2 separate regions of the Homo sapiens genome follow, and region 2 is linked to region 1. Evidence: fine-mapped expression QTL. A gene starts in region 1. The other region holds a variant in brackets. All regions are shown on one strand. Distances are between the middles of the regions.

The links. PIP is the estimated chance that this variant, and not a neighbour inherited with it, causes the effect.
Region 2: its variant is the best candidate, but not a certain one, in a credible set for the expression of NUB1 in skeletal muscle (GTEx, PIP 0.56).

The regions. Positions count from the first base shown.
Region 1 is chr7:151,340,155-151,343,066 of GRCh38, reverse strand. It overlaps NUB1 (negative regulator of ubiquitin like proteins 1), which reads right to left and starts at 1,255. Exons shown (of 15, transcript NM_001243351.2): 1 at 1,221-1,255. RefSeq lists silencers at 986-1,165, 1,336-1,535 and enhancers at 1,133-1,634, 2,704-2,793.
Region 2 is chr7:151,375,855-151,378,766 of GRCh38, reverse strand. It overlaps NUB1 (negative regulator of ubiquitin like proteins 1), which reads right to left. Exons shown (of 15, transcript NM_001243351.2): 13 at 2,824-2,912; 14 at 1,956-2,133; 15 at 318-1,720. The coding sequence ends at 1,542. It also overlaps a transcript of WDR86 not described here. Among named protein-coding and RNA genes, the nearest start is that of WDR86-AS1, 32 kb to the left of the region's middle. The variant C/T (reference allele first, on the strand shown) is at 1,374.

The DNA.
Region 1 (2,912 bases):
CTGTCTCCCCACTGGGGGACAGTAATTTCACAGGCTGGTTACTGGAGCCAAGCAATTTGAAAGGCTGATGCGGTACTCAGAGATGCCATCCAAGGCCGGGCGCGGTGGCTCACACCTGTAATCCCAGCACTTGGGAGGCCGAGGCCAGTGGATCACCTGAGGTCAGGAGTTCAAGACCAGCCTGGTCAACATGGTGAAACCCCGTCTCTACTAAAAAAATAAACAAATAAAAAATTTTTAAAAAGATGCCATCCAAGCCACCACTTGACAGAAGGACGAAGGAGTGTTACAAACCCAGTGCGTGTCAGACACTCCAGGGAGCAAACAAGAGCTCCAGGGTTACACCGAATAAGATTTAATGTTAAAAAAAAATTAAACCACTGTCTTGAAACTTAAGGAACTTCAGTTATAGACAACAGAGTAAGTGGCGACATATTTTAAGTCAAGTTTAATAAGTCAGTTTTTAATTTTAACTGAAATGAGAACTGAAAAAGTTTCATGCATGCCATACAATGTTTCACATTGTAACTAAGAAAAGACGAAACTCATTAATATCACTCCGTGGTCCAAGCAGAAAGTGAAACGTTATAACGATCCTTTAAAAATTTCACTTTCACTTTTGTAATGAATCGATCATTGCTACATTTAGCCACACCTTTTCAAGTATACATTATATATAGTTGAAACACAACTATATCTAGTCAAGACACATTCATTTTTTCTTAGGAAAATGAAAGATTCTTGATTAAAAATAAAAGGGAAGGAGGTGAGAATGATAGAATCAGGTCGTCAAGGTTCGAGAAAATCAAGTGTCTTGTCATTAAATAGCAAAGAAAATCTGGCTTTGATTGCAAATAAATCCCAAATGGTATACTCGGAGTGTTACGATTCAAGTATAGCATTTGGCTAATTTTTTATAGACATATTTATTCCTTTCTCTCCCCAAACCGATACACTCAATATTTTCTTTTAAATACCCCACACCTCTGCCTAACTCAGGGCAAACCAAAGGGCCCCGAACGGCCAGCGCGTCCCGAAGCCCGGCCCACCGCTCCCGGCCCCGGCCCCGGCCCCGGCCCAGCTCCACGCATGGCTGCTCACCCCCGCCCCGCGGCCGCTCCACCCCTGGCCAGGAGAGGTGCCCAGTCGGACCGGGAACCGGGGCGCCAAGCAGTGCTGCTGAGGCTGGGGTCGAGGACACTCGGCCGCCGTGTCCTCACCTGCGCCACGCCACTCCCGCCGCGACCAGCAGAGTGCCCGGATGCGGCAGCGGCCGCCGTTTGTTTTCATTCCGGGTGAGGCCAGCCCCGCCCCCGCCGCCGCTGTCGCCTTCGCGCCGCCGCCGCCGCCGCCGCTTGGAAAGAGGGTTGTGGGCGGGGCCAAGGCGAAGCCAGCTGTGGGCGGGGATACGGTTGTGTGGGCGTGGTTACCGCGGGGCGGAGCCGCGACGGGGCGGAGCTAAGCGGAGGCGGGGCTGGGCGAGGATGTGGCCGTGTGGGGCGAGGACCTGGGAGTTGGTGTCCAACGCCACCCCAGGCTCAGTCTTCCAGGACTTCCCGCCCGGGCTCAGTTTGCCAGCCATCAAGAGGAAATGGATCCTGGCTTTGTTTCTCCAGAATCCTTGAAAGAGGCTGGGGGAAGGGTCGGGACCGTCCCAACCCGCATCTCATTCCTCAGCCTAGGCTGGACCCCTTCCCTAAACCAGCGGCTTTTCACCCCGCCCTCCACAAGCCCACCAGGGGCTTCCCTGGGGTGAAATTAGGCTGCTTCCCGGGAATTTCCTCCCCCATGCTGTCCACGGCCACTAGGGACCACAAGGCCTAGGGAGCTCTGCCTACTTCCAAGGTCCTATTCCCAAGGCTGTGCTCAACAGTGACGCTTCTATTTTATTATCAGTTATTGCTGTTAATCTCTTACTGTGCCTAATAAATTAAACTTTATCGTAGGTATGTACGTATGTATAGGAAAAATGAAGTGTGTGTATATATATAGTATATATATATGTGTGTGTATGTAAAATGGGGTGCAGTACTATCCGAGGTTTCAGGCATCCACTGTGGGTCTTGGGACACACCACCTGTGTGTGGACGAGAGGGGACTCCTGTAACCTTGCAGTGACCAATCCGTTTTTCGTTCCCTGTTGCTGCTTTCTTTAGCCCTTTTCTACCTATAAAGCCCACCTCCTCTGCCCAGCTCGTTGGAGCACCGTTTCTAAATTTTCAGAGAAGATGCCATCCTGATTCATGAATCAATAAAAACCAATAGATCTTTAATCTAAATTTGTGGTAATTTTGACTTCTGACAAAGGGATATTAATAACTGTATAACCGCACCAGACCAATCTGATTCGCCTTTTATATACCCAAGTTGTGAGTTGTTTTTCAGTTGCATGGACTCCCAGATGGAAGGTTTCGCACGTAACCTGAGGATGCCCAGGTGAACCAAGCATGCAACCAGGGGCGGAACCTGAGTGCTCAGATCAAAGCAGGGACTGAATTAAGAAATGGGCACTGCATGGTGAGATCCAGAATGCAATCAGATCAAGCCCTGGTGTCACCCCATGGCAGGGTCCAGTCAGATGAGCATCCCAGCATCACCTCATCGCAAAATCTAATCCGATCATGCGTCATTACCCTATGCTTATAAAACCCAACCCAGCCCCAAGCTCAAGGAGACAGAGCTGAGGGTTTCCTCATGTCTCCTTGACAGTCAACTCACAATAAAGCCTTTCTTTTCTCAAAAGCCCGTGCCATGGTGTTGGCTTCTAGCACATCAGGAAAAAGCCCGTTGATTGCTCAGTAGCAATTGCAGCAAGGTAGAAGGACAACAGAAACTGTTCTGACATTTTTTTCTGAGGGCTTTCTCTGAGATGAGTAACAAAGATAGTTTCACTTTTACATTTACGTAGTAGA
Region 2 (2,912 bases), 36 kb before region 1:
CAGGCCCCAAATCCAAGTGTGGCATTGTGTCAAATGAGGCTGAGACTCCGCGTCACCTCAGCTCACCAGGCACTTCTGAGGCAAACCCTGACAGGTACATTTCAGTCCCCTGCCCAGGATGCACCCCAGCCCCGCTTGGCGTGCGGCATCTTTCACAGCAGATGCCCTCTGCTTCTGAGATCATCCTTCCATCATCTCCTCACAAAACTCAGTGGAAACAGACATCCTGCAATCAAAATGAAGAGCTAGTCACCCAGACACTTTCAACACCTACAGCTGGGGAGGCTGAGTAAATTAATGCAAAATTAGGGTGACAATTTTTGAATATATTTCCCACCTTTTATTTCCATCGGTATCATCCGTTTAAAAAGAATGACAAGAAGATTCCCATCAGTCCAAACTGGACCACCCACACTTTGAAAAAGTTGGAGCATTTCAGCCGGCTCCGCATGATCCATCCTGTCTTCAGTCAGTGCCTTCTGGAAGGGAGGGAAAGTCTTGGATGCACCTGGCACTCAATCCACTCGGCACCTGGCTGCTGCTGTGGTCCTGGGGCTGGAAGGAACTCCCACTGGGCACACATCTACAGAGGAGTGCGTGGCGCAGTGAGGACGGTTACTGCTGGAGCCGACACACAGCGAACTACATACTTTTAGAAAGAGCCTCTGTCACATGGCTAGAACAACAACAACAACAAAGAAAACCCACAAAAAACCTGGAGAAAATATATCTAAATCTCTGATAGGTCTCTTAGCTAGCAGTGAGTTCAGTATGACAGCACAGAGTCTAAAAATATTAATTAAAAATAAATTGCTTTGGTTAGCATTTAAACCTTTCCCATTCAATAGAAGATTTCTGTAATGAGGAATGCTGAATATATATAAAGCCTGACACTCAATCTTGAATTTCGGGGGCGTATTTTACTGAACTAAGAGCATAAAACACTGGCGTCCCAGGCTGAAGCCATTTGCTGCGACCTGGTGTGGCCCCCAAGGCCAGCGCCTCATCGTTATGCCCCACAGCACTTGGAAGGAAGACTTAAAGGACGATTTGAGGGGCGGGGAAAGGGTGGCACAGGAACCCATGTGGCACCCTGGCAGAGATGGCAGCGTGGGAAGCAGGAAGGTCAGGGCAGTGGGTGCAGGAGGCAGGCAAGCTGGGCAGATGGAGCCACAGCTGGAGAGGAAGCGGTCGGGACACCCTTCCCAGGACCCTGCCCTGGACACCTTCCCCAGGACCCCTGTTCTACAGGACCCCTGTTCCTTCCTGTTTCGGGGTAAAACACCAAGCTGGGGAAGGGGTTAGGGACGCAGACCTGGGAGGCAGATGGAACGGCCTGCGCCAGGCCAGAGGAAGCTTCTTCCCCGAGACCA[C/T]GCATGAAGGCCCTGGGACCCCTCCTGGACTTGTCCCCTGCCCACCCCCTCCTACACCCAAAGAGGACTTGTAATTCAGATAAAAAGTAAGAACAGAAAGAGCTGCATTAGCCTTTTCATAATGATAGCATTTATAAGCAGAAAATTAGCGCTATTTCTGTTCATTATTTAGTTTTTCTTTGTTGCTGACTTCCTATTTTCTACATAGGATAGGTACTCTGCAATAATAATTTCTTCATCTTCCAGAGTTGAGTCAAGATAGTCTTCCTCATGCTCTGGAATGTCTTCCAGTATCTCATTGACGGCCTCTGTCTCCATGTCTTCGTCTGTTGAGGCACTAGAGGTTCCTACAATAAAATACCGCAGGAGTAAGTGAATTATGTGAGGATTGTCCTGGGGACACTGCACGACCACAGTCAACCTCAGACTGTGCCTCTTGCTGGCCACACTGTCCAGGTGGCCGGCCCGGTGACGTCAGGGGACGCCCCCTCAGTCTCCACATCTGCCGTGGCTTAGGGCCACATCTGTTGGCTTCTGAAGACACTTTGCTCTCAATGCGGCCCTCAAAGACCTCAGACCTACCTGCGGAGTCAGAAGGGGACGTGGCTGGCGGGGACAAAGAGTCTTCTGGCGACAGCGGCAGCTCGGGAGGCAGGCTTCCTCCGTTGTGAGCAAGGGTCTGGGCGGCCAGCTGGACGTTGCCTCTGAACACTCTCAGCGCAGCTTCGGCCACGAGTGCATCAAAACCCATGTACACCAACTAGGGGAGAGCGCAGGGGTCACAGCATCAGCCCCTGGCGCCTCTTCTGCCACCCCCGTCAGCCATACGAGTGGACAGCCGACTCTCATGTTTAAGAGCTCCCGGCGTGTGCACCATGGCCCTTTGTGCACAAGTCATGCTTCTGTGCAATGTGAGCGTAGAGCAACCTGGAAGGGGGCTTGGAAGACTCAAGTCGGGTGCGTCAGGGAGCAGCCATCTCAGGACAGGCAGTGACCTCGGGCTGAGAGCAGGGCGCCACACCAGCCTCACCACGAGCACCGCGAGGTCAGTGGCCACAGCATACAGGCGTGCTAACGCGTGTAGGGGCACAAATGTGGACAGAGCCGTCACTTGGGATACAAAGCTGGATGGGTTTCCCAGGTCACAGTGCCATCCTTTTAGGTCACAGGCAGAGAAATGAGGCTGATGCAAACAGTGGTGCATAGACAAAGGCAGCAAACCTAAAGAGAACTTCCTGACACTTCCCCAGTTTTCCTGCTTTCCAAGGAGGCCTCCCCTGCCCTCTGTTACTGCGTGGGTGGCCTCTGAGGTGGGCAGGTTACACCTGGAGCCTGGGAGCCAAGGTTTCAGCACGGACTCCCCCAGTCCTGCTGCCTGATTCACCCGGGTTACCCCAAGCAACCCCACCCGAGGCTGTCCAAGCTGAGGGCACAAAGGCCTGTCACTCACTCGGTCAATGTTTTCCTGGGAAGGACTTTCTTGACGGTTGTCGGTTTCAGGATTGGAATCATTTAACCACCACATCTGAGGATTGCTGA